Homo sapiens: one gene and its partners. The protein of the gene in region 1 interacts with the protein of each later gene in a pairwise test. Each region holds a gene or a part of one and is shown in the gene's direction. Other genes may lie near its edges. The genes, in order: KCTD6, BAG4, GRB7 and CTNND1.

Region 1 (7,027 bases):
TGCTGTCTTTCAAAACCATCTTTAGTTTTAGTAAGGAAAGTCACTATAAAGGAAAAATTTTTTATTGTTACCATTCCTGGTAGATTTTCTGAAATATTAGATATTTCTTTGCTTTCATCAAGTAAAATAGGCCTATTTGATACCCATTTCAAGATCTTCCTTCTGCTGCCTGTCTTGTGGTCATTTAACTTCTCATTAAGCCCTCCACTGGAGACTGTGCCAGAAGGGAGAGAAGATGAAAAGCAAATGAATCATTTTCTAATTGTTAGTAGCTCTGGAAAATGATTCAGTAGAAGAGATTGAAACTATTCTGGAAATTCTTTGGGATTGTATTTCATTCATCTGCATCGTTTCAGAGATGTTCCTAATGGTCGTCAATTCAGAATTCAGAAGCCGATCATTATCCAGCTATTGGATAACAGGGAATTTTTCATGCTTTTTTTTTGTTTGTTTGTTTCTTGCTGTATTTAAGCATCTCCACAGAAGATATTTAGAAGCAGGTAGAGATAAAATTTAAACTAATCAATACTGTTTTTTCCCTTTGAACTCTTTAATGCACAATTTGATTTCTTTAGACAGTTTACTCATTGTTATTGGAAGTGACTAATAGTAACTTTGCTTCAATTTATTTTGATGTATCTTATACACAAGTATAGGAAGGCTTTTGGGTGGTTTTTAAGAAACATGGGCTGTAGATTCCCATAATTGCTTTCCTGAATTATTAAGCGTGAGCTTTCATTACATCTTTGTACCGGAACTTTTGCTTTTGCTGTGGAACAGATTCAGGGACATCGTCTAATTTTTTTTTTTTTTTTTTTAGATAACTGCTCAAGAAGTTACCTTGTTTTGATTTAGCAGTAAAAAAGAAAAAAAGGGTTAATAGTGGACAGACTTTTCGTTAACGGCTGCAACATTGATGTCTGCTTTTTTCCTTGTCTTTGATCTTCTGTTTCTCATTTAATCATTTGGATATTCACGGATTGGAGTTCTTTATGTCACTACAGACAGGACAGCAACCGTTATTCACACTAGTTGAATGGGTTCCTGCCTTTTTTTGGTGGGGGGGCCTCAGGAGAATTTTTACAAACCCATTATGACTGTTTAGTTAGGCTGAGTTACTGTAAAATTTGTAAATAAAACCCTACTGGATGGATAGGGTTAATAGATGGCTATAGAGAGTTTAAAGTTAAGCTTTTTCAATTTCTTGTCTCTTGGATTCTGTTCTTTCAATTTCTACCCTAGGAGGGGATTTATGGAAAAATCTAGACTAAGAGTCAGAACATGCAAGTTCTTATCTAGTTACTTCCCAGCTGTGGCGCCCTCAGCTAGTCACTTAATCTGCCTTGTTTCTCTGTTTTGCATCTTTAAGATGAGGATAGTAATCCCTGCTCGGCCTACTGGTATCAGGAATGTTGTAGGGGGAAAAAAAGTCTTTCATGCCCCTGTCTATTAAATTGTTTCTTCCTTCTAGAATCCCTTCTCAGGTTGTCCGAATTTTCTTTCAAGGATTCAACTGAATGGGCTCTTCCCAGAAGTCCTCTATTTCCCATTTGAAATCTTGCTTTTCCCCTCTCACGGGCCTCTGCTGGTCCATCTGTTATACAGCACTTTGAATTCTGTTCTGTACTTCAGTCATTGCATGTTGCCTTCCATTATAGATGGAAAGCTCCATGAGGGCAAAGATTGTCTTTTTCCTCTTTCTGTGTGTCCGCATTGCACATAGGCACCCCCTCCACTCCATAGGTGACCCACAATAATTGTTGGCTGAATGAATGATTATTGAGGCTGTCAGAATGAATACTTTGGGTGATGGGAAAATGCCAAAGATGAGCATCTTACCAGAACTTTTGGATGAGTGGCCTTTTAAATTGCTCAGTTACTAATCTGTTGTTATCAGTAACTGAATCAGATCCTGGCAAGACAAATTGGCAAAGCCCATTTCTTGGTCCTGTTTACTTCGGATACTATTTGTGAAGCAAGTCAGAGGAATGAAAGACTGTCATAACAGTCTTGAATTTGACATTTGTTCCATTTCTCACCCCATAGCATGTGGAGGCCTGTCTATATCCAACTGCTGAGTGTAAAGAATAAAAACTGACTGCCCCATAGTCTGGTCCACATTTTAGTTGTGTGCTTTGAAGGATTTGCAAGGTAGAGAAATAGATGCTTCAGGCTCTGATTTCAGCCCATGCTGTGCTATGCAAATGTTCTCTACATGCCTGAGTGACCTTTTGAGAAAGAGCCTTTGTGATCTTCTGTAGCTAGGGCTTGTTCTGGGAATTCTGTGCCAGATTCCTCTAAAAGTGGGAAAAGTGAATCTGTTAAAGGACCACGTAAAAAAGCCAGTGCTTTTCCTGGATGAATACCAATAAGTCCATGTTTCTTACCATGTCTTGCCAGAGCTTTAGAAATTTGCTCTGCAGTTTGCTTTACAGGTTGATTTGGGATTGAAGTGTGTGAGAGGGAACTGACTAAGGCAGTTCAGTAGCTGGGAAACTGTTTGTTTAAATGCTTTTGAATTGTAGATAAAAATAAATTCACATTGGCATCATTAGTATCTGAGCATTTCTCAGTGTCTTAAGGCTGGCTCTCCATGAGTGCTGGCTGATTGACTCTCATCTATATCGGTAAGGTTCTTTTTGCCCCAAATTGTGCTCTTTAACACTTCGGCATTTAAATCACTTTCTATTTGTTTTAATTGTACAAAGAGAAATACATCATTATTTAAAAGCATCATCTTTTTTTTTTATATTGTAAGATAAATACCATTCTGATGTATTTCTCTTGGAAAGGGATGCTGGTATCCTGGGAGGTTTATGATTTTTGATGTTTTTACTCAGGTGATTGGCTTGTATAGCTGAAATGCTGATGAAAAGGAGTTTTCCCTTCTCCCTTTTTCTTTTCTTTTCTTTTTTTTTTTTTTTTTGAGATGGAGTCTCGCACTGTTGCAGGGGCTGGTGTGCAGTGGCACAGTCTCGGCTCACTGCAACCTCCGCCTCTCGGGTTCAAGTGATGCTCCTGCCTCAGCCTCCTGAATAGCTAGGATTACAGGTGCCCACCACCACGCCCAGCTAATTTTTTGTATTTTTAGTAGAGATGGGGTTTCACTATGTTGGGCAGTCTGGTCTTGAACTCCTGACCTGGTGATCCTCCTGCCTCAGCCTCCCAAAGTGCTGGGATTATAGGCATGAGCCACTGCGCCCAGCCTGTCCCTTTTTCTTAAATGACCTTTTTGGTGAGGACCATTATAGGTTTGTACCAGGATAAGGTTGTAGAGTTAATCATAATATTCTCTTATATAAATTCTAAAAATTGATGTTCTAAGAAGAGAGGTAGAATTTGAATGACTGGGTTACTTCCTAGACTCTTCCTCCTTCTCTTAAGTACAGTATAGTTCTTTCTCTGAAAATCTTCAGTCTCTTAGTTCCAGATGGGTTCTCTATGGTAAGAATACAGGACATGTAGAAGGCCCTAGGGGAATGCTTTCTTCCCCAGATCTTTGCCCTGTAGTAGGTTTCAGCTGAGCAAGGACGAGTAGTTTTTCTGGTGTTTGGCCTCCTCTGTTGGGTGGAAAAAGACTTTCTTCTCTATTTTCCTAGTTATATATGCTATCATATGTCTGTTTTTCTCCTCTTGAAGTTTCCCTGAAACCTGGGCTCTTGAAGACGCATCACTGGAGCAGATGGATAATGGAGACTGGGGCTATATGGTGAGTGCTTCTTGGAGATGCATTTTGAAGGCTGGGGAATTATTTTTGTGTGTCTTTTTATCCTTATGTATTTTTAGGTATATCTTATAAGAAAAGAAAATTGTGAATTTGTGTAACCTCTCTTCCCCCTTTTACTTAGTTTAGATGTATTTTGGAGGCGTTTTTGTCTTGTGTGGTGTTTTTTAAATTTTTATTTAATTTTTTTTATGTGGAGTCTCGCCTTCTTGCCCAGGCTGGAGTGCAGTGGCGCGATCTTGGCTCACTGCAACCTCCACCTCCTAGGTTCAAGAGATTCTCCTGCCTCAGCCTCCTGAGTAGCTGGGATTATCAGCGTGCACCACCACATCTGGCTAATTTTTGTATTTTTAGTAGACACGGGGTTTCACCATGTTGGCCAGGCTGATCTCGAACTCCTGACCTCAAACGATCCTCTGCCTTTGTTTGGTGTTTTAATGGAATCAAACTCAAAATGGATTTTCCAAATACTTTTTATAATCACTGGAGAGGTAACGTGATTTTTTATTTTTTCAAGTGTGTTGCTCTGAAGACTCTTTCTTCATGAATAGTGACTACAAAGGGATCTAGTGAGTTTGGAGGATATTTTGTTGTGGTTTGGGAGATTAATGGTTGAGAAAGTGCCTCTTCTCCCCACTTGCATTTTTTGTGTGTGCATATGTCTCCCTATTTTTCTATTCCTTTGGTGTAAGGTATATTTTACTTGCCTATACCTGAAGTCTCTGTCTGCCTTTCTTTTTTCTTTCTTCCTTTTTTTTTTTTTTTTTCGAGACAGGGTCTTGCTCTTTTCCCTAGGCTGGAGTGCAATGGCGTGATCTCGGCTCATGACTTTCCAAGCTCAGGTGATTGTCCCACCTCAGCCTCCTGAGTAGCTGAGACGATAGGTGGGCACCAACATGTGTGGCTAATATTTTGTATTTTTTGTAGAGATGGAGTTTTGTCATGTTGCCCAGGCTGGTCAGCAACTCCTGGGCTCAAGTGATCCACCCTCCTTGGCCTCCCAAAGTGCTGGGATTACAGGTGTGAGCCACCACACCTGGCCTATTTTTTTCGTAAATAGTATTTCTAAAACTGAAGGTATGTTTTTTAAGAGAAGCTTGCTTCTCAGAATTAAAGGCCAGATTGCAGCATTAATGTTACAAAAGTGAATACACTATCAGATTATGAAATTTTATGGCTGCTGTAAGCTTTTGGGTATGTGATGCTTTTCTGGCTTGGTTGTATTGACTAAACTGTATATTTTAACTTAGTATTTGAAAGTATCACTTCCATGAAAAAGTTACCAAGATTAGGTCTGCACAGTTTTTAATTTAATTTAAATAATTTTTTTTTTTTGGAGACAAAATCTCTCTGTGTCGCCCAGGCTGAAGTGAAGTGGCATGATCTTGGCTCACTGCAGCCTGTGCCTCCTGGGTTCAAGTGATTCTCATACCTCAGCCTCCCAAGTAGCTAGGACTACTCAGGCCACCACACCCAGTGAATTTTTTTTTTTTTTTTTTTGTATTTTTAATAGAGATGGGGTCTTGCCATGTTGCCCAGGCTGGTCTTGAACTCCTGAGCTCAGGCAATCTGCCTGCCCCGGCCTCCCAAAGTGCTAGGATTACAGGTATGAGCCACTGTACCTGGCCCAAATTTTTATTTTAAAAACAAATTTCATAGTTTGTTCCTTTTGTTTGAGGGGGAGAAACCAAAGAAATATTGAAAGTAAATGTCTATATTATCAGATCATTTTAATTCTATCTAATGTTAAATTAAATTCAGAAAAATGCAAGCCTTAAAAAAAAATCAGAAAAAAATAAGTGTATTTTAGCGTGGCTTTTCCCTTCCCACATATATTCTGGCCTGAAAACTCTATAGATAATGGGCCTGAAATGATTTGGCTCTGGAAGTCAATGCCCTGTATTCTTAGCATAAGTCTTTAAAGAGAAATTGGATTTCTCCTTTTTTTTTCTATTGAAAGCAAATGTTAGATCACTTCATCTGGGTGGGTTTATTGCTGGTAGTAAAGTCATTTTGCATTAGAGGATTACTAAATACATTATAGCCTGAAAGAATCTTGGGCTTTGCTCAGTATCACTTACTTTCTTAATTTGTCAAAGTTAGTATTTAAAAATTTCAGATGACTGATCATTTCTTTACAAATTTCAGATGACTGACCCAGTCACATTAAATGTAGGTGGACACTTGTATACAACGTCTCTCACCACATTGACGCGTTACCCGGATTCCATGCTTGGAGCTATGTTTGGGGGGGACTTCCCCACAGCTCGAGACCCTCAAGGCAATTACTTTATTGATCGAGATGGACCTCTTTTCCGATATGTCCTCAACTTCTTAAGAACTTCAGAATTGACCTTACCGTTGGATTTTAAGGAATTTGATCTGCTTCGGAAAGAAGCAGATTTTTACCAGATTGAGCCCTTGATTCAGTGTCTCAATGATCCTAAGCCTTTGTATCCCATGGATACTTTTGAAGAAGTTGTGGAGCTGTCTAGTACTCGGAAGCTTTCTAAGTACTCCAACCCAGTGGCTGTCATCATAACGCAACTAACCATCACCACTAAGGTCCATTCCTTACTAGAAGGCATCTCAAATTATTTTACCAAGTGGAATAAGCACATGATGGACACCAGAGACTGCCAGGTTTCCTTTACTTTTGGACCCTGTGATTATCACCAGGAAGTTTCTCTTAGGGTCCACCTGATGGAATACATTACAAAACAAGGTTTCACGATCCGCAACACCCGGGTGCATCACATGAGTGAGCGGGCCAATGAAAACACAGTGGAGCACAACTGGACTTTCTGTAGGCTAGCCCGGAAGACAGACGACTGATCTCCGACCCTGCCACAGGTTCCTGGAAAGACTCTCCAGGAAATGGAAGATACTGATTTTTTTTTTTAAATCACAGTGTGAGATATTTTTTTTCTTTTAAATAGTTGTATTTATTTGAAGGCAGTGAGGACCAGAAGGAAGTTTTGTGCTTTGGCAGACTCCTCCATGTTTTGTTCCCTTCCCCCTGAGTATGCATGTGCCTGTTCAGAGTCTCCAGATACCTTTTTTATAAAAAGAAGTCTGAAAATCATTATGGTATATAATCTACCCTTAACAGAGCTTTTCTTATTACAGTGCTAAAATGATTTCTGATAAAATGGTCCCTAACTCAACTAGAAGGCTAAAAATACAAGAATGAAAGAATAAGCAGAGTACTCATGATGCCTTTGAGAAAAATCAAAACATCATGTAGGGTGACCTAGTTTCCAAACCAATAAATAAGTAGTATTGTAATATTAAAGGAAAACT
Region 2 (5,974 bases), on another chromosome or scaffold:
AGCATCTGTTCATACTAGTGCTGATTTAATAAGACACTTCTAGATTGGGAAGGCTTTTATATTGATGCCTTTCTTATTTGTGGCAGCTATTGCAGTAAATGGACTTTGGCTGAAGGTCATAATCATAAATTTTTATACTGAAAGTAATCTTTAGAGAGTTGCTGCTTGAAAGTTTCCCTATCTTAGCCTTTTTTTTTTTTTTGTGGCGTGATCTTGGCTCACTGCAACCTCTACCTCCTGGGTTCAAGCAATTCTTCTGCCTCAGCCTCCCAAGTAGCTGGGATTACAAGCACGCGCCATCACGCCCAGCTCATTTTTGTATTTTTAGTAGAGATGGGGTTTCACCATGTTGGCCAGGATGGTCTTGATCTCCTGACCTCGTGATCTGCCCCCCTCGGCCTCCCAAAGTGCTGGGATTACAGGCATGAGCCACCGTGCCAGGCAAATCTTAGCCTTTTTTAGCACCCTGTTAGGTTCTTTTTTTTTTTTTTTTTTTTGAGACGGAGTCTCGCTCTGTCGCCCAGGCTGGAGTGCAGTGGCACGGTCTAGGCTCACTGCAAGCTCCACCTCCTGGGTTCATGCCATTCTCCGGCCTCAGCCTCCCGAGTAGCTGGGACTACAAGCGCCCGCCACCGCGCCCAGCTAATTTTTTTTGTATTTTTAGTAGAGATGGGGTTTCACCTTGTTAGCCAGGATGGTCTCGATCTCCTGACCTCGTGATCCGCCCATCTCAGCCTCCCAAAGTGCTGGGATTACAGGCGTGAGCCACCGCGCCTGGCCAGGTTCATGTTTTTTTAATATTCTGTGAATAACTATGTTTATTTCTCTGTTCACTTCAAGAGGAGTTCTAACATGTCTTTATTTGTGCTTCCTTATAGCATATGGGTCCGTTTGTTTATAGTATCTATGGGACAGACTTGGGTTTCATCCATTGAATTTTTAGGCCTTATTCCTTCTGAGTTTTATTGTCATTAAATCTACCCCTGGTATCTTTGGAACCAACTTTTTGAGGCTTGGAGAAATTACTGCAGCTGATTAATTAGATTTACTACAGTTTAGTCCGGTAGCAGCTAATGTATACTCTGTTAAGAAGAGAGGAAGCATCTCAGAATCTGCCTGTAGCAGAATATTTTTATTATAAGTTTTTCACAATGACTGGTATATTTCTTCTTCTCAATCTAGAACCCTGGAATGACCCTGCCCCATTATCCTTATGGAGATGGTAATCGTAGTGTTCCACAATCAGGACCGACTGTACGACCACAAGAAGATGCGTGGGCTTCTCCTGGTGCTTATGGAATGGGTGGCCGTTATCCCTGGCCTTCATCAGCGCCCTCAGCACCACCCGGCAATCTCTACATGACTGAAAGTACTTCACCATGGCCTAGCAGTGGCTCTCCCCAGTCACCCCCTTCACCCCCAGTCCAGCAGCCCAAGGTAGGAGACCTAAATGTTGTTCCTTTAATGTGTGTGTAATTAGGAGAACATAACATGGTTTATATAGTTTCTGTACTGGTTTGTGTTAAATGGGGACTAATTACAAAAAGTTGGTGACTACTTATCTATAGCTTTACCTCAGCTCGGTTTCCTTTTTCTTTTTTTTAATAGACTTTATATTTAGAGAAGATTTAGATTCACATCGTTTTTGTTAAAAGACAGAAAGATACACATTTTCTGTTTGTTGTAATTCTTCTAAACGTTAAATGCAAAGATGCATTTTACTACTTCAAATAATCTATGAACAGAAGACAAAACCAATGTGAAATATCTGTAGCATGAGCTTGTATTTAAACCACAGACTTGAACATTATCACTTGTGGCTGTGTTCCTTTTCAAGACCTTGCTTGAGGTTTTTAACCTTTTAGGGGAAAAACTAATTCTTATTAATTAGGTCACAGGATGGACTATGAGGTGCTCATGGTGATGGACCTGCCACAGGGCAGGTTCCAGCCATTATAACTCAAAAATTCTGTGCCTTTTGTCTGACAGGGCACTCCCTTTTATCTTCTTAGGACTGTGTTTTTTTGCAAATGATTAAGGAGAGGGGTCCAATTTTATTGTTAGGGAATCTTTTCATGTACCTTTCTGGTCAAGTGAAAGATGTGGGCTAACAAATTTGATGTTGATGCATTCCCATTAAAACAGCTCTTTTCCTCTTTTTGCTCTCCCACTCCAAGGATTCTTCATACCCCTATAGCCAATCAGATCAAAGCATGAACCGGCACAACTTTCCTTGCAGTGTCCATCAGTACGAATCCTCGGGGACAGTGAACAATGATGATTCAGATCTTTTGGATTCCCAAGTCCAGTATAGTGCTGAGCCTCAGCTGTATGGTAATGCCACCAGTGACCATCCCAACAATCAAGATCAAAGTAGCAGTCTTCCTGAAGAATGTGTACCTTCAGATGAAAGTACTCCTCCGAGTATTAAAAAAATCATACATGTGCTGGAGAAGGTCCAGTATCTTGAACAAGAAGTAGAAGAATTTGTAGGAAAAAAGACAGACAAAGCATACTGGCTTCTGGAAGAAATGCTAACCAAGGAACTTTTGGAACTGGATTCAGTTGAAACTGGGGGCCAGGACTCTGTACGGCAGGCCAGAAAAGAGGCTGTTTGTAAGATTCAGGCCATACTGGAAAAATTAGAAAAAAAAGGATTATGAAAGGATTTAGAACAAAGTGGAAGCCTGTTACTAACTTGACCAAAGAACACTTGATTTGGTTAATTACCCTCTTTTTGAAATGCCTGTTGATGACAAGAAGCAATACATTCCAGCTTTCCTTTGATTTTATACTTGAAAAACTGGCAAAGGAATGGAAGAATATTTTAGTCATGAGTTGTTTTCAGTTTTCAGACGAATGAATGTAATAGGAAACTATGGAGTTACCAATATTGCCAAGTAGACTCACTCCTTAAAAAATTTATGGATATCTACAAGCTGCTTCTTACCAGCAGGAGGGAAACACACTTCACACAACAGGCTTATCAGAAACCTACCAGATGAAACTGGATATAATCTGAGACAAACAGGATGTGTTTTTTTAAACATCTGGATATCTTGTCACATTTTTGTACATTGTGACTGCTTTCAACATATACTTCATGTGTAATTATAGCTTAGACTTTAGCCTTCTTGGACTTCTGTTTTGTTTTGTTATTTGCAGTTTACAAATATAGTATTATTCTCTACTTCTTGGTACATTTTGTAGTAATATGTTTAATATAATTATTCAAGAGACTATATTGACAGCCAGATAGTATGGCAGTTCTGAAAAAATTTATATCTTTTCACCACTTGAATATACTGCAATGTGTAGTGAGTAAATTGTCTCCCTTTTTCTATAGATCATTAGGTTAGAGTTTTTTTCTTCTTTTTTTTTTTTTTTTTTTTTTACCACTTCTGCTGTTCATGGTAGTAGTGGAAGGTAAATTTGGAAATGGCATTGACATAAAATGAAAATGTTTACGGACACTTTTCTTTTTTGCTTTTTTATTGTATTTGGATAAAGATCCACTTAAAAGTTATCTGTTTTTTCCTGTTTTTTTTTTTTTTCCCCAAAGTGTAGTTATGTTTTCACTATTGCTGCTTCTATAGAGGGCATTGTGATAGAGAGTTACAGATGAAACATTAAATGCCACAGTGAGTAGAAATAATTACTACAAAAAGTAATAAATATGATTACTTGGTAATATCATTCTCCATCTAAAATACTAGTTTCACCTGTGAGCAGATTTCAGCTCAGTTTATAGTTAAAAACAATGAGGGTAAAATGGGATTCATGCTCAGGGAATGAATCAGCCATAGTTAGAGTGGGAAATTATTATTTTCTTCATTTAAAGGTAGATTTTATGTTTATTTCCCTAAATTGCATAAGATAAAATTGTCTGTTTAATAAAAAGACATTTATTACCATTATTAACAGTCATTTTAGAGCCAAATTTAAGAAAAGGATATTGAAAGGGTCTTTATTGGCCTTGTTTGGGTAACTCTATGCTGTTAGATAGAAGAGACTTAGGTAAATAACTTTTTATGTCTGAGGTGAGTACACAATATTGGTTCTTGGAAAAATAGCTGTTTCTTCATAAGATACCCAAGTGATAATTTTTTTTCCCCTAGACTGTCAGGCCTATGAGTAAATACTAAATCTATTAGCTGTCCCCACTCATAAACCAAACCAAACCAATACAAACAGATGAGGAGAGGAAATGTAGTAAAAATACTGGCTGGGTCTTATGATTGGGATGAGTGATTTTATAAGATAATATGGTGATAATTTTATTCTAGGATTTTATTTTTGGCCTAATATAGGAATGTTTAAAAAAGGCTTTTCTATGAAAATTAGAAATTTATACTTGAAATTAAAAGTCTAGAAGGGGGAGGACCTTAAAGCTAAGCTACCAGTAAGACAATGAATAATTCAGAAGAGAACACTATTCTTTTACTGACTGAGTGCCCAAGATGCCAATTTCCATGAAGTCTTGATTTATATATATGTACACATGTTATGCACATACATGTTTGTTTTCTAACAGTTATTTTTTAAGCTTTTGAGATAATTTTAGACTTACAGAAGAGTTGTAAAAGTAGTAGAGTTCTTGTATACTCTGCACCCACCTTGCCCTTATGTTAACATCTTACGTAACAATAGAACATTTGTCAAAATTAAGAAATTAACCTTGATATAATACTAACTAAAGTAGAAAGTTTAAAAAGTAGAGATTTTAGTCTTTTCACTAATGTCCTTTTACTGTTCCAAGACCCAGCCTTGCATTTAGCTATCATGCCTACGTCCTGTCTTCCAGTCTGTGACAGTGTATCATAACAGGGGATACCTGATGTTGTAATGTATTTCTGGTGTTGTTAACCTTGATCACTATGCTAAGGTGGTGTCTGCTAGGATTCGCTACTGTAAACTTACTGTGTTTTCCTTGTAATTATTGAATATTTGCTGGAGATACCCGGAGACTATGCAAATGTCCCGTTTCTGCTTAAACTTTTGCTCATTTTACTATCCATTGGCAGATCTTGCTTGTGGCAGTTACTACTGTGGTGTTCTAATGGTGATTTTCTATTTCTCTCAATCCTTCTACATTTATTATTGGAATTCTTCTGTAAGGAAGAGTTGTCAGTTCTGGATTTATATTTTTAACTATAATAAGATATTCAGGATAAGTATAGATTTAGAACTTAAAGATGTTAAATCATGTTAAAATTATTCCAAATACCAATATCAAAGAAAACTAAGTTGGTAATCTATCTCAGAAAATATATGAACTTAAGAAGGAAAATAGTATTTATGATTTGTAGAATTGGTTCAACTTTTGACTTAATACTGACTTTGGACTGAATTCAAAGTTTTCTTGAAATTTCACATCTGGACTTTTTAAAGTGTCTACATTTATATTACTTTGGGGATCATTTTGTCAAAGTCTTGAATAAAGTTACCCAGTCCTGGCATGATAAACACAACTATGTTTTTTTTTTTTTATAATAACCCTCTGTTGTTCCAAGTATGAATGCCAATGAAACTGTTTAAACAAATAAGCCCTAATGAAGTATACAGGGGTTGGATTATATGTGTCTCCACATGTTGGTGCAGAATTCTTTTAAATGCTTTTAAAAATGGGGTTCTGAAAACAGTTTTTCAGTTGGTTAATGTAAATAATACCATTAAAGCTAGGCAGGTTAAAAAAATTTTGAAGAATGTAGATTAAATAGGCATAAAAAAGTTTTTGGGGGATGGATAGTTGATGGAGCTTTTCTTTTACAACTTTACTTTTTTTTACTTATTTTTTTAAAAAAGTAAGGAGTTTACCTCAATTCGTAGAAGTTACGAGTTTAAAAAGTCAGTTCTATGAAAGGCAGCATTCTCCTGATCCCACCCCCATTTCTCCTTCTCTAAAGGCAACCACTTTCAACTGAGTTTTTCTTTTGTTAATCAAAAAATTTTGTTTTTAGAGACAAGAGTCTTG
Region 3 (6,955 bases), on another chromosome or scaffold:
TCACTGCAGCCCCAACTTCTCAGGCTCAAGTGATTGTCACACCTCAGCCCCACCAAGTAGCTAGGACTATAGGCCCGCACCACCATGCCTGGATAGATTTTATATCTTTTGTAGAGATGAGGTCTTGCCAGGTTGCCTAGGCTGGTCTCAAACTCCTGGGCTCAAGCGATTCACCTGCCTCAGCCTCCCAAAATGCTGGGATTACAGGTATGAGCCACCATGCCTGACCCCTTCTTTTTTTTTTTTTTTTTTTTTTTTTTTTTCGTATGGAGTTTTGCTCTTCTTGCCCAGGCTGGAGTGCAATGGCACCATCTTGGCTCACTGCAACTTCCGCCTCCTGGGTTTAAGCGATTCTCCTGCCTCAGACTCCCGAGTAGCTGGGATTACAGGCATGCACCACCATGTCTGGCTAATTTTGTATTTTTTTTTTTTTTTTTTTTTTTTTTTTAGTAGAGATGGGGTTTCTCCATGTTGGCCAGGCTGGTCTTGAACTCCCGACCTCAGGTGACCCATCCGCCTCGGCCTCCCAAAGTGCTGGGATTACAGGTGTGAGCCACTGCGCGCGGCCTCCTGGCCTCTTATTAATGGTGGCTTTTGAAGTGCAAAAATTTTAAATTTTGACAAAGTCTAACATCAATTTTTTTCTCTTGTCAGTTGTCTTTTTGCTGTTATATTCAAGTTCTCTGCCTAACCCAAGGTCATGAAGACTATCTCCCATGGTTTCTTCTAGAAGTTTTATGGTTTTAGCTCTTACATTCAGGTATCTGATCTATTTCAAGTTTTTTTTTTCTTATGCATCCTGTGAGCAAAAGATCTAAATTCACCTTTTGGCATGTGGCTATCCAATTGATCACAGCAGCATTTATTGAATGCCTATCCTTTCCTCCATGAAATTGTCTTGGCACCTTGTAAAATCAATTGACCAGAAATGTAAGGGTTTCTACTTGGACTCTGGATTCTGTTCCATTGACCTATAAACGCATTCTTATTTATTATTATTATTATTTTCCCCCGAGACGGAGTCTTGCTCTGTCACCCTGGCTGGAGTGCAGTGGCACGATCTCAGCTCACTGCAACCCCCGCCTCCTGGGTTCAAGCAATTCTCCTGCCTCAGCCTCCTGTGTAGCTGGAATTATAGGTGCACACCACCATGCCCAGCTAATTTTTGCATTTTTAGCAGAGGCGGGGTTTCACCATGTTGGCCAGGCTGGTCTCGAACTCCTGACCTCATGATCCACCTGCCTCGGCCTCTCAAAGTGTTGGGATTACAGGTGTTAGCCACCGTACCTGGCCTTATAGTTGTTGTTGTTTTTAAATTCAGATACAACTTATACACAGTAAAATTCATCCTCTTGAGTGTACCTTTCTTTTTTTTTTCTTTTCTTGAGATGGAGTCTCGCTCTTGTCTCCCAGGCTGGAGTGCAATGGCTCGAACTCAGCACACTGAAACCTCCGTCTCGTGGGTTCAAGAGATTCTCCTGCTTCAGCCTCCTGAGTAGCTGAGATTACAGGCGTACGCCACCACGCCCGGCTAATTTTTGTATTTTTAGTAGAGACGGGGTTTTGCCATGTTGGTCAGGCTGGTCTTGAACTCCTGACCTCGTGATCCACCTGCCTCAGCCTCCCAAAGTCCTGGAATTACAGGGGTGAACCACGCACCCAGCCTTGAGTGTGCCTTTCTATGAGTCCTAAGAAACACACACATTTGTGCATCCAACCCCAAAACCAAGATACAGTATGGTCCCATCACCTCTCACAAGTCCCTGTGCCCCCTACTGTGGACCCCTCTCCCTCCTCCCCAACCCCAGACCTGGTTTTTGTTCACACAGTTCCACCCGCTCCAGAAAGCCATATAAGTTGATTCCTACAGCACTCCGCCCTCTGACTGTGGCTTTGTTTCCATCCCATCCTTCAATATCCAGGATGATCTTTCCAAAATGTAAATGTGCCCTCTCCTCTGTGCTTCTACTTAAGTCTAAATACAACTTGCAGGGTCTGGTCTTTGACCGCTACTCCTGCCCATCTGGACAAACAGGATGGATGGCTCTCAAACCTGGTTTGCAGAACAGCCACCTGAGGGCTTGTCAATACCACACCTTCCTGGGTCTTAGCCCTAGAGACTGAGATTCAGTTGCTGGAGAGGAGCCCAAGAATCTATTTTCCACACAAGGTTAGGGAGGTCTAGAGGCCACATTTGCAGAAGCACAGCTTCCTCTCTCCACACCTTCCACACCTGTCCAGGTTCACCCACGTGGCCTCTGCTTCCTCCCTTCTCCTCCAACCCCACTCTCTGTCTCCGCATGCTGCATCTCCTCCTGCCCAGAGCTCTGGCATTGATTTCCTCACTGGGGAAAGTGGCCTCCTTCCCCAATTCCCATCCACCGATTCCAACCCCCTTCCCATGTCAGCCAGCTTCTCCTCTGCTCAGCTGTCACCTCCACTGAGAAGTCTTTCCTGACTCCCTATGTGAGTCATTTTCCCAGCATAGTTGTCTCCTGTCATTTCTTATTTGTGTGATTCTTTGGTTAACATCAATCTTCCTGATTGGCTGTGTGAGGATGGGCGGGGTCTGTTTTTGTTGTTTACGCCTGTATCCCCAGCACAAAACATGGGGCTGGCATATGGTAGGTACTAAACAGATAGTTGAATAAATGAATGAGTGAATTGTCTACTCTGCCTTTGCACAAGCTGCTCCATCACCAAAGAGACCTTGCCTCCTCCCCCACTTCTTTGCTGGGCCCACTCATACCGGTTTTCCTAGGAAAACTCTGGAGAAAATTGAGGCAGGAGCCACTCATTCGTGCCCCTTCCAGGGTGGACCTCTTATCACCCTAAGGATTGTTTGTTTTCCTGTCACCCACATCAAGCTGGGTGGTGGCCGCAGCCTTTGATCTCCACCTCCTAACCCCTCTCCCAAGTACCCTGTGTTTGCCCAGCACTGAATGAGACAGCTAAAGTGATCCCTGAGAGAACTAAAGTGTTCCCTCAGGCCGGGCGTGGTGGCTTATGCCTGTAATCCTAACACTTTGGGAGGCCGAGGTGGGCAGATCACCTGAGGTCAGGAGTTCAAGACCAACTTGGTTAACATGGAGAAACCCCATCTTTACTAAAAATACAAAAATTAGCTGGGTGTGGTGGCAGGCGCCTGTAATCCCAGCTACTCCGGAGGCTGAGGTAGGAGAATTGCTTGAACCTGGGAGGCAGAGTTTGCAGTGCGCCAAGATGGCACCACTACACTCCAGCCTGGGTGACAGAGCGGGACTCTGGCTCAAAAAAAAATAAAATAAAGTGATCCCTCTAAGAGGAATCCCCAGGGGCCCAGGCCAGAGCTTTCTCCAGGTCACCATGGCTCCTCCCACTGTGCCACCCTGCCTAACCCCCTCGATTTTAAAGGAGAAGCCAAGACTCTGGACTTTGCTCAGAAGGTGGGGGGCGGGGGAGGGAGGGCTTACCCTGGGTACCTCTGAGGGGCCAGGGCGCAGCCACCACGGTAAGGGTGACTGCAGATCGAGGGGCAGGCCATGTTGCTGGACACCACCCTGGCTGGCGTCCCTCTCGGCAGGGTGCTCTTTGCCCCATGGGGTGGGATCCAGAGCTGCAGACAGGCCCCCAGGCTTGGCCAATGAACAGACCAGGTTCGGGGAGGGTGTTGGAAAAGAGTGGATGGGGTGGTTCCCCTTACCTTGCAGCCCCCAGGCCCTCCCCCCTCCCTCCCAGGTGGTCGGGACTCTTGATCTTCGCTCGTGGTACTGTCTGTTCGGCTGTCTTCCCCGCCTCTCCCCAGGCACCTGCATCCTCCCTTGGCACCTGCTGCCAGGCTAGGAAGGGCAAAAACAATCCCAGTTGGCGTAGTCAGGGAGTCTCCGCCCTCCTCCCAGGTTTCCTCCTCCCAGGCGCCTCCCCTGGACCCGCCCCCATCTGCCCAAGATAATTTTAGTTTCCTTGGGCCTGGAATCTGGACACACAGGGCTCCCCCCCGCCTCTGACTTCTCTGTCCGAAGTCGGGACACCCTCCTACCACCTGTAGAGAAGCGGGAGTGGATCTGAAATAAAATCCAGGAATCTGGGGGTTCCTAGACGGAGCCAGACTTCGGAACGGGTGTCCTGCTACTCCTGCTGGGGCTCCTCCAGGTAAGGGGACCGAGATCGGTCTCAGACGACAGCCTGCCAGGCAACCCCCAGCCGCACCAGGGCCCCAGGCTGTGCCAGTCTCCGGCTGAACTGGCCGGCGGCCCAGGTGGGAGGATTGGAGCCACCTGGCTCTCCCCCTCCCCCGCTCGGTGATGTCAGGCCAGGGGCGGGGGCTGGAGGGGGACAGGTAGTTAAGGGCCTGGCGTCTCCCTCCCTGAAGACGTGGTCCCAGCCGGGTGTCCTGACGCTCGGGGTTCAGGTAAGAACCCAAGCGGGCATTTATCCTTTGGGGGCAGGCACGGCCGGTCTGGAGGCCGGTAGGGAAAGGCTGGGTCTCCTGATGGGTTGCTTGGCCTCCCACTTTTCTCTTTTCTGTCCATTTCCCACCCTGCCCCCTCCTCCCCACCCGCCCTCTTTTCGTCCCCATCCTGGTTTCCAGCGCTCCTTGTTCCCTCCCTGTACACCTCCCTGCAGGCAGCAGCTGAGAATGGGAAGGAAGACCTGATTCTCTCCTCCGACTTGGCTTTCCCGCTGAAACTAGCCCCTCCCCGCACACCCGGGGAGAGCCGCCCTCACTCTCTGGCTCGCCCAGTTTACCCCAGTTTGGGTTTCCCCAAGTCTCTAAGACAGACGTCTCTGCGGGCTGCGGGGAGATGTGGGGAGGGCCCCCTCCACTTTGGAGGGCAGTGAAGGAGAGGGATCCTCTAAATTGTCGAGGCTTCATCTCTCCAGATTGTATGCCCTTCTCAGCAACACCGCCTCCGGCCCTCCGATGGGAAAGTGGAGGCCGGGTGAGACGGGGTCCCTCCTGGCTTCAGCATGAAATGGGCAGGAAGGCTGGAGGGGTGTATGAGGGGCTCTGCAGTGCGGTGGGGCCTGGGGAGAGTGGGGTGGGGGATAGCAGATGGTTTCTTCTGCTTGATGAGGCTAGGGAGAGACCCAGGTTCCCGGTCTGGGTCTCCCTGGCAGATTGAGGACAGAGAATGAATGCATCTGCCGGCAAGGTGGAACGCCCCCCACCCCGCCCCCCAACTAGCCGCACCGCCCCCCAGGAATGCCCTCTTTTGGTCCGCCGGTCTTGGACTCTGCTCTCCCCTCTCCTGATATCCTACTGTATGCTTGGTGGGGGGACCTCATGGAGGCGGGCAGCCTGTAATGATTAACTGCAGAGACACTCCAGCATTCTTCCCGAATTAAACTTTAAAAGAGCTGCCCCGCCTTCTCCCATTGGGTATTTTTCCTGAGTGAGAGTGGGCGGGGCCTCAGAGTCCTGGGTCCTCCCTTATACTAGGAGTCATCCAGGGGTTTCTCACCTTCTCACCTGGGCCCTGCACCCTAAAAAATTATAAGCCTCTCCCGTGGGGGCGGGGCGTGGAGTACTGGGCGGACGGGGGCTCTCCCGCCACATCCAGGCCCCTGGCCCAGGCCTCAGTCCCGCAAGCCCTTCCCCCTGCTCTGGGAAGCAGAGTTGTTTTCTGTTGGCCCTGAACACCGGGCCCCGCCACCTGCCCTTAGGGCCAGCCAGGTGGGGCGTGATTCAGGAAGTAAACAAGGAGGTTGGGAGGACGGGAACGCGGGTGGGGCTGGAACCACTGGGGGAGGAGGCAGCTGGGAAGCCACGGACGGAGTTACCTCGTTGAGGGGACAAACTGATTTTGGGGGTCGGTGTTTCCAACCGAAGCTTTACCGGGGCCTCAGTTTGAAAACTCCAGATCTCTAAGCTGCCAGGCCCACAGCCAGGACCCCTTCCTCCTCCCTGCTCACCCCATTGGTCTTGACGATTCCACCCGCCTCCAGCCTTAGAAGCTTAAGGGCACGGCTGGGGGGCTCTGAAGGCAAACCCCAGCCTTGGACTGGCCCTCTCTGATCTCTGAGGCCAGGCTCTAATGTGATTTGAATCTACTTCTAACCCCTTCCAAGCACTGCCCTCCCGAATTCTCTGCTCCTCTCCCCACCCCACTGTTGGTCTGTGATTTCGAGGCAGGCGTGGCCCCCTGCAGCCTGGAATGAAGTCACTGGGGCTGTTTGGAGACCGGGGCTGTTTGGAGGTTAGACTGGGGTGGGAGTGGGGGATTGTGTTCTGGTATTGAGGTGCTGGTGTCTCTTGCTAGCGGGTGATGGGTGTGTCGTGCCCCTCCTGGCAGGACCCTGAGCCCCCTCCCTGGCCTTTCATCCTGTCTGTCTTCTTGAGTGTTTTCCCTTTCCACTCCTGCTCCTGTGGTACCCCTCTGGCCGGGACACCCAGGAGAATGTGTCAGGAGGAACTTCATCCACACAGGGCAGGGGCTCTGAGCGATGCTTTGGGTGGGGAGGGGCACCGCCGGGATGCTGGCTTCTCTCCAAATGGGCCTCTGAATCCAGGCCGGGCATTGCCTCTCTCCTTCCCAGGCGAGGGACTCCCTGGCGAGGAGGTGGTTTGGGACTGGGGGTGAGAGCAGATCGTAGGTCCCACCTGGCCTGGAGCTAGGCCGAGGGTGGGGAGGAGGAGGTGATGTCAGGAGCCTCAGGCCCACATCCTCCTCCCCCATCCTGTTCCCAGCCCCGTGCCTCCCCCATTCCGCTCTGGCTAGCAGTGGGTTGGGGAGTTGGGGGAAGGGTGGAGGCAGGGCTGTTTTTGTTTCTCCTAAGCCAGGAAGTTGTGTGGATGAGTCAAGGTTGAATGGAGAGCCCTAGGCAGTGTTGTCCCGCCCGCCCTGACTCACCTGTCCCCCAAATCCCCTGATGCCCTCACTGAAGGGTCAGGTGCCTGCTCCCTCCTGAGGGGTCAATCCCAGGTGCCCCAGGTGGCCTCATAGTACTGGCCCAGTGTTTGGAGAACAGGCTG
Region 4 (7,820 bases), on another chromosome or scaffold:
CTAAAGGGATTGATAAATGGCCATCCTATCCAGGGCTTCAAAAATGACAAACTTTGATTGTAATGTGTAACCACCAGAGGGTGGAAAGGAGTAAAAATATTTTGTTTTTCTTTGTATGGATAACCAGTGGGGTTTTTGGAGTTGAATTTTTAAAATTTCTTCTTGGCATTTATAGTTTTAGCCTATTTTATTTTATTATTTATTATTTTATTTATTTTTGAGACAGCGTCTCACTCTGTCGCCCAGGCTGGAGTGCAGGCGCAATCTTGGCTCACTGCAACCTCCACCTCCTGGGTTCAAGCAATTCTCCTGTCTCAGCCTCCCGAGTAGCTGGGACTACAGGTGCAACACCACACCTGGCTAATTTTTGTTTTTTTAGTAGAGATGAAGTTTCAGCACATTGGTCAGGCTGGTTGGGAACTCCTGATCTCTGGTGATCCACCTGCCTTGACCTCCCAAAGTGCTGGGATTAGAGGTGTGAGCTACTGCACCCAGCCTTATTTTATTTTTGAGACAGGGTCTCACTTTGTGGTCACCTAGGCTGGAGTGCAGTGGCACAAACACAGCTCACTGCAGCCTTGAACTCCTGGGCTTAAGCAATCCTCCTACCTCAGCCTCCCAAATTAGCTGGGACCACAGGTATGCACCACTATGCCCCGCGTGTATTTTTAGTAGAGAAGGGGTTTCACCATGTTGGCCATGTTGGTCTCGAACTCCTGACCTGAAGTGATCCACCTGCCTTGGCCTCCCAAAGTGCTGGGATTACAAGCATGAGCCATCACACCCGGCCTATTTTAAATGTTCATTAATTTTAAATACCTTGACCAGGCATATATAACTAGCAAGCTAAGAGACTTTATTCACTCATTTAGTTGTTGCTAAATATGAGTTACAAGGTTGAGCTCTGGGGATAGACCATGAGCAAAAAAGACACTATTCATGGAACTTTTTTTTTTTTTGAGACAGAGTCTCACCCTGTCACCCAGGCTGGAGTGCAATGGCACAATCTCAGCCCACTGCAACCTCTGCCTCCTGGGTTCAAGCGATTCTCCTGCCTCAGGCTCCCGAGTAGCTGGGATTACAGGTGGTGTGCCACCAAGCCCGGCTAATTTTTTGTATCTTTAGTAGAGACGGGGTTTCACCATGTTGACCAGGCTGGTCTTGAACTTCTGAACTCGTGATCTGCCTGCCTTGGCCTCCCAAAGTGCTGGGATTACAGGCGTTGAGCCACTGCGCCCAGCCCATGGAGCTTATCTTCTGATGGGGGAGACAGAAGTATACATACACACAAATGAAAACAAAAGAAAAAGGAAGACAAAATACTTGCAAGTTGTGAGTAGTGATGTCTTCAACAAACAAGACCAATCTGTCTGTAGAAAATCATGTAACATTCTAGTATGTGGCTTTGATCTCGGAATCAATGAATCAACAAACATTTTTGGGCTGGTTGTTTTCCTTTGGTGATTATCTTTGGCTTTTGAACTTGCTATGGAGGACTAGGAATTGATGGGGAATAGAGGTAGAAAATGTGATAAAAGGAGAAGATTTTTAGGTAATGAGGCTTAAAGGCTGTTCATATCTTTGTTATAATGTATTCATTTTCAGCTGTAGTTTATTTAAAGCCCATCAAACAAGTGCTGTAATGCATGTTTGGTTTTTCAACACTTCTGAGGAAAGTCCTTTTTGGCCACTATAGACCAAATATAGGTCTATGAGACTATAGACCATATATATAAGGGAGTGGATAATGACTACATCAGCATGATTAAAAGCACATTCATGCTGAGTTGTTGAATTCTAGTTTATCTAGGTAAAGAAAGGTCAGATTATGGTTGATAATGTGTTACTTTAATGTACTGAATGAATAAATGTGGTGCCTTCAAAGCAGATGATAGTCCCCTACCATCCCAGTCAACATACAGTAGTCCTGTTTCTAGGATTTCTCTTGACCTTTATCTTGACCATAGTGTAACGTAATAGAAAGAGCATGGGCTGTGGAGTGAGACTGGTGAGGGTTCACTTAGCCAGATGAGATCAGGCAAATTTCTTCACCTTATTGGACCTTGATTTCCTCATCTGTAGAATGGTTGTAGTACTATTTCTGTGGTCATGTTTTAGAAGTTTGAAGTACTGAGCTCAAAATACCTCTTACATGGTAGACACTTCATCATTGGTTGCTATTATTGGGCAGTGGCTCACCACTGCAAGTTTTTGGGCAGGGTAGTTACTGAATAATAAAAATAATGATAATGCATTCTTAGTGAGTTTATACTACATGCCATACATTAAGAACTTTTGTTTTGAACCGGAGTCTCGCTCTGTTGCCCAGGCTGTAGTGCAGTGACACGAGCTCAGCTCACTGCCTCCCGGGTTCAAGCGATTTTCCCACCTCAGCATCCTGGGTAGCTGGGACTACAGGTGTGCGCCACCACGCTTGGCTAATTTTTGTATTTTTAGTAGAGACGGGATTTTGCCCTGTTGGCTAGGCTGGTCTGGAACTCCGGAGCTCAGGTGATCCGCCTGCCTCGGCCTCCTAAAGTGCCAGGATTACAGGCTTAAACTACGGTGCCTGGCCCAAAGAACTTTTTGTGTATTTTAATTCCCACAACAGTCTTGTGAGAGAGATATAGTTATCTCCATTTTATAGTTAAGGAAACTGAGGTTCAGATTATTTAATTTGGGTCAAGGTCACATAATAGTACATATATTTGAGTAAGTGTACTTACTTACAGAGGTGGAGTTTGAAGCTAGGCAGTTTGTGAAAACCTATACTCTTAAAGTTTCATATTTCTTTCTTTTTTTTTTTTGAGACGGAGTTTTGCTTTGTCACCTACACTAGAGTGCAATGGCATGATCTCGGCTCACTGCAACCTCCACTTCCTGGGTTCAAGCGATTCTCCTGCCTCAGCCTCCCGAGTAGTTGGGATTACAGGCACCCACCACCATACTCGGCTAATTTTTGTATTTTTCGTAGAGACGGGGTTTCGCCATGTTGGGTCAGGCTGGTCTCGAACTTTTGACCTCAGGTGATCCACCCACCTCGGCCTCCCAAAGCTCTGGGATTACAGGTGTGAGCCACTGTGCCCAGCCAAGGTTTCGTATTTCTATTCTAGATTTTGATAACTTGATGAAGACTCATTTGGCAGCAGTCTATAGGGTAAGTTTTAGATTAGTAAGAAAGAAGAAGGAAATCTTTGATTCATCATTGTCTTTGTTTTAGTAATCAGGGAATAACCATAAAATGCTAATCTTTGTCAAGCATGTTAAAAAAAAAATCCAGCCTCTGTCCATCATGGTCTAACAGTTTAAAAATATGTCCTAACTCAGAAAAATAATACCCCAATAATCCTTTATTTAGGTCAAATGTAAAAAGAGAATGTATAAGCTAGATCATCTTAAGCTTGAAGTTCACAAAGAAATAAAATGTTCTTTTTTTTTTTTTTGAGACAGGAGTTTCGCTCTTGTTGCCCAGGCTGTAGTGCAATGGCACAATCTCAGCTCACCGCAACCTCTGCCTCCCCGGTTCAAGCAATTCTCCTGCCTCAGCTTTCCGAGTAGCTGGGATTACAGGCATGCACCACCACGCCCAGCTAATTTTGTATTTTTAGTAGAGACAGGGTTTCTCCATGTTGATCAGGCTGGTCTCGAACTCCTGACCTCAGGTGATCCGCCCACCTTGGCCTCCCAAAGTGCTGGGATTACAGGCGTGAGCCACCGCGCCCGGCATAAAATGTTCTTGACATGAGATTTACTTTCTTTACCTATGCTGTTATTCCCTCTAAATATATTGCTTGTTTATTGGATTTCATTTCCTCTTTCCAACAAACCCACATTATTTTGATTTGGGGACAAATTGGGAAGACAGTGATTTTCTTTAACAGCCCAGTGGATTCTGCTTCCTTCTAATTCAAAGTATGGAGATTAAAACTGTTAACAAGTCTAGGCATTAAAAAAAAAAATAGCTCTAGATGGGGCGTGGTGGCTCACGCCTGTAATCCCAGCACTTTGGGAGGCCGAGGCGGGTGGATCACCTGAGGTCAGGAGTTCGAGACCAGCCTGACCAACATAGAGAAACCCCGTCTCTACTAAAAATACAAAATTAGCTGGGCATGGTGGCACATGCCTGTAATCCCAGCTACTCGGGAGGCTGAGGCAGGAGAATCGCTTGAACCTGGGAGGCGGATGTTGCGGTGAGCTGAGATCGCACCATTGTACTCCAGCCTGGGCTCGAAACTCCATCTCAAAAAAAAAAAAAAAAAATAGCTCTAATGCAATTAATCCAAAACAGTGAAACTGAGTTTACCTCAGATATCCCCTACCATCCCAGTCAACATATAGTAGTCCTGTTTTTAGGATTTCTCTCTCCTTTCTTTCCCGTCTTCCTTTAGGGAAATGCTTTGGGGTAGGAAGCAACAAACCAAACAGCAGCAGGCAAGTAAAATCAGCTCTTTTCTATTTCCCCACTGGGATAGTACAGAAGAGGGAGCAAGAACTCATCATCAAAGAGAACTGAGACTTAGGCGTACCATTCTAAAAAGCCCTTGTTCCTTGTCTCCCTTGCCTCTTCCGCCCCCCTCAGCTCTGCAGTAATTCCTCAGAGATTGTACAGTCTCTCCACTTTAAATATAAATATATAAATATAAATATATATATGTATAAACTTCCCCCTGTCTTTCTCTCCTCTCTTTTTTTTAATTTTCTATAATAAAGTTTCCTATTGGATAAGGTCAGCTCCCTGATTTATGCCTGGTTCCTATTGGAAGCTCACAGGGGCTGACATCACTTAGGAAAGCGAAGGGGGTAGGGCTGCCAGATCAGTTTGTCACCACCCAGGCTCCCTTGCCTTTGGCTGGGTGCAACTTCCATTTTAGGTGTTGGATCTGAGGGGGAAAAAAAAGAGAGAGGGAGAGAGAGAGAAAGAAGAGCAGGAAAGATCCCGAAAGGAGGAAGAGGTGGCGAAAAATCAACTGCCCTGCTGGATTTGTCTTTCTCAGCACCTTGGCGAAGCCTTGGGTTTCTTTCTTAAAGGACTGATTTTTAGAACTCCACATTTGAGGTGTGTGGCTTTTGAAGAAAATGTATGTACTGACGGGAAAAGGAGGATAAGCAAGTCGAATTTTTGTCTTACGGTAACCGGAGGGAATTAAAAAACGGGAGAGTCTGTTATGCTGATGAGTAACTTTTAAGCAATTATTTTTCTTTTCTACTTTCAGTACTTTGGCGGGGGAGATTTTGGTATTTTATTATATTTAAAAAGGTAAAATATACAAGACCTAGAAACAAACTTCTAGGTCTCTTTAATACAGGAAGCTGAATAGATCCAGAGGGGTAAGAGCAGGTTTGAAAATTTACATTTTGGTGTGTTCTTTGATTTTATTTATTTATTTTTCTGGATTAAGCTAACATATTTCTGTTTTCAGAGCCCAAATCAAAAGTTGGTTTTTTGGCATGTTGCATGTGGGTTGGGAAAGAAATTTGTCCGTGTCGGAACCCAGTTATACCGATGGTTCTTCATATGTTTAAAACTTTTTTTTTCTTTTATCATTGGATTTGTGGAAGTGGAAAGTTGCAGGGAGCTTTGCAGTGTAAATGGTATTGTTTTTCCCCCAGAGAGTTTGAACGGCCCGTATCGGTTTCAGCCCTGCTGTTCCTGGGTGGATCCCTCTTACTTTTCCAGGTGCGGTGGGTGGGAGCCTCATTCTCCTGCTAGATGTAGTCTCCCTTCTTTGGCTTATAAAAGAAAACAAATGGAACCATGTTAACTGAATTGCCATCTCCTTCTTCCTTCTAAACTACCTTTGATAGCAAAGATTTGTGGAGGTGTTTGTTAAATCTGCAAATACGATAACGTTTGGTTTATGTGTTTAAAGGGATAAGGAAATTCTAATCATGCTTTTTATTTCACCTGAGTAAAGTGGCAACATACCTGAAAATATTTTCAGCTTTTTGCACTCTGAAAGGGCCAAGGGTGGAATAAAATTAGGTTTAGAAAAACCATTTATACAAAGTTTAGTGTTTAAAATACATTTCAGAAAACAAGGGAGATTTTTATTTTTAAACCAACCTGAAAGTTGTTTTTTGGAGTTGAATTTATTGTTTAGTTAATTTACCATGAAATCTGAAATCTCTTAGAGCTGAAGGCCCATGACTGTGCTTTCATATCTTATATTTAATCTTAAGATTTGTTTTGTTTTTGCAAATACATTCTTGCAAAAGTACGGATTCTAGATAATTATATAGCCAACTCATCAGTAGCTGAAAAACTAGGGTATTCTCTTCTCTTTTTGAAAATGTGAATCCGCCTGAAAATTATAGATGCTGTCCTAATTGTAACAAGATGGGCTTTAGTGTGTAAGCTGCTCATTAGCTTTAAACTGGTATGGATCTTTAATAATCTGATTTCGTTCTCCCCTCACCCCCCTGCCACAAATTTTTTTAAGACTAGACTTCCTTGAATTTCTTTTCTAGAATGAGGGTATTTCTTGAAAGACGATTTCATCCTTGTGAAGTTGTGGCTTCAGGAGGAAACAGAACTTTGTTCCTCCTTCAAATACAACCTAGGCAAAGGCTGCAGGAAATTTTTGATGTCTGAATCTCATAATTATAACAAGTACAGTTAAAAAGAAAGAAAAAATACAATGTGTATAGGCTGTTGAACTGTAGTTCTTGTTTAATATTTTCCAAATTTTCTTTCAAATGTTCTCTCTGCCTTGACTCCAGCCTGGGGAGGTTTCTTGGATCTTTAGAGTGTTGGTCATGTTGCTTCCAGAGTGTCTGTTTCCCACTCAACCTTTAGGGGGAGGGATGAGGGAATCTGAAGGAGGAGTACAAAGGCAGTTTGAAAATAGGTTCTGGATGACTGAGTGGTGGTGATTTGGGTCTAGCTTTAAATAGTGGGCTTTGTGTAGCTGAAGTGAGCATCCTAGTTAACCTAGTGTCCAGGACTATTTCCACGAACTAAGGGTTGTTTTGACTGGTGTGTAGTACAGAGCCTTTGGGGTGATAAGATGGAAGATTTGTCTTTTACCTCACCTCCACTGGTTCTTTCAGGAATTATAAGGGATGCAGATAAGTAAATCTTTTATTTTTTAAATTTTTTGTTTTGCTCATTGTCTTGGTTTTGGGGTAAAAAATGATGATAGGTAAGTATGAGCTGTTCAGATATTTCTTTCCTTGTTTGCCTCCTATGTACGGTTGGTTTCTTTGTTATGTGAGTAAGGTAGTGGTCTGTGTTCCAGATTGCGGGGCGGGGGGGCGGTTCTCTTTTAGGTGGTTGGAGTTCTAGTACCTTTCTCAGGGTTCCAGCATGGACAGTCAGAGAAGCTCCAACATGTTCTCTGAGCTAGGGTAAAATTGAGACTATTGGTGATATTAACAAAAAGAAAAGCACTAAGTAATTACAATCCAGCCTTAGGTTTATGAAGTAGCTGCTCTCCAGGGATGAATGAGATAGGATGGATGCAAATAAATTAAGCATAGATCACTATCAATTGGAATAACAAAATGATTAGCTTTGTATAATTTATCTCCTTCTATTTTGGTACCCTGTTAGTAACTGCCAAGGCCCTCATTCCCCCCTACCTCCCCACACCTTGTTTTTAGTGTATTCTAAGCATTTTGCATAAACTATTAATTTCCCACCACTGGTTTTTTTGTTTGTTTTGTTTTTTAAGGAATTTGACCCTCAGAGAAGCTGAGGTTTGGTGAAAATCTCACTGCCTGTAAATGGTTGAGGCCAGGATTAACCCTGGTCTGACTAACTACAAAGTCCATGGACTTAACCACTAATATACTGCCATTCTCCAGAGAGAATGGAAACA

The links.
Region 2: the proteins of KCTD6 (region 1) and BAG4 interact in binary tests that used the Homo sapiens proteins (3 or more experiments, as listed by UniProt).
Region 3: the proteins of KCTD6 (region 1) and GRB7 interact in binary tests that used the Homo sapiens proteins (3 or more experiments, as listed by UniProt).
Region 4: the proteins of KCTD6 (region 1) and CTNND1 interact in binary tests that used the Homo sapiens proteins (3 or more experiments, as listed by UniProt).

What each region holds. Positions count from the first base shown.
Region 1 is NC_000003.12:58,495,074-58,502,100, forward strand, and holds part of KCTD6 (BTB/POZ domain-containing protein KCTD6), read left to right. Parts: intron 1-3,291; exon of another isoform or gene 3,292-3,639; 5' UTR 3,640-3,682; coding exon 3,683-3,709; intron 3,710-5,872; coding exon 5,873-6,559; 3' UTR 6,560-7,027. UniProt on the Homo sapiens protein: Probable substrate-specific adapter of a BCR (BTB-CUL3-RBX1) E3 ubiquitin-protein ligase complex mediating the ubiquitination and subsequent proteasomal degradation of target proteins.
Region 2 is NC_000008.11:38,207,831-38,213,804, forward strand, and holds the end of BAG4 (BAG family molecular chaperone regulator 4), read left to right. Parts: intron 1-1,182; coding exon 1,183-1,437; intron 1,438-2,177; coding exon 2,178-2,663; 3' UTR 2,664-5,471; downstream 5,472-5,974. UniProt on the Homo sapiens protein: Inhibits the chaperone activity of HSP70/HSC70 by promoting substrate release. Prevents constitutive TNFRSF1A signaling. Negative regulator of PRKN translocation to damaged mitochondria.
Region 3 is NC_000017.11:39,734,003-39,740,957, forward strand, and holds the start of GRB7 (growth factor receptor-bound protein 7), read left to right. Parts: upstream 1-3,935; 5' UTR 3,936-4,131; intron 4,132-4,349; exon of another isoform or gene 4,350-4,390; intron 4,391-4,768; exon of another isoform or gene 4,769-4,903; coding exon of another isoform or gene 4,904-4,922; intron 4,923-5,964; exon of another isoform or gene 5,965-6,179; intron 6,180-6,955. UniProt on the Homo sapiens protein: Adapter protein that interacts with the cytoplasmic domain of numerous receptor kinases and modulates down-stream signaling. Promotes activation of down-stream protein kinases, including STAT3, AKT1, MAPK1 and/or MAPK3. Promotes activation of HRAS.
Region 4 is NC_000011.10:57,756,991-57,764,810, forward strand, and holds the start of CTNND1 (catenin delta-1), read left to right. Parts: upstream 1-4,811; 5' UTR 4,812-5,129; intron 5,130-7,820. UniProt on the Homo sapiens protein: Key regulator of cell-cell adhesion that associates with and regulates the cell adhesion properties of both C-, E- and N-cadherins, being critical for their surface stability.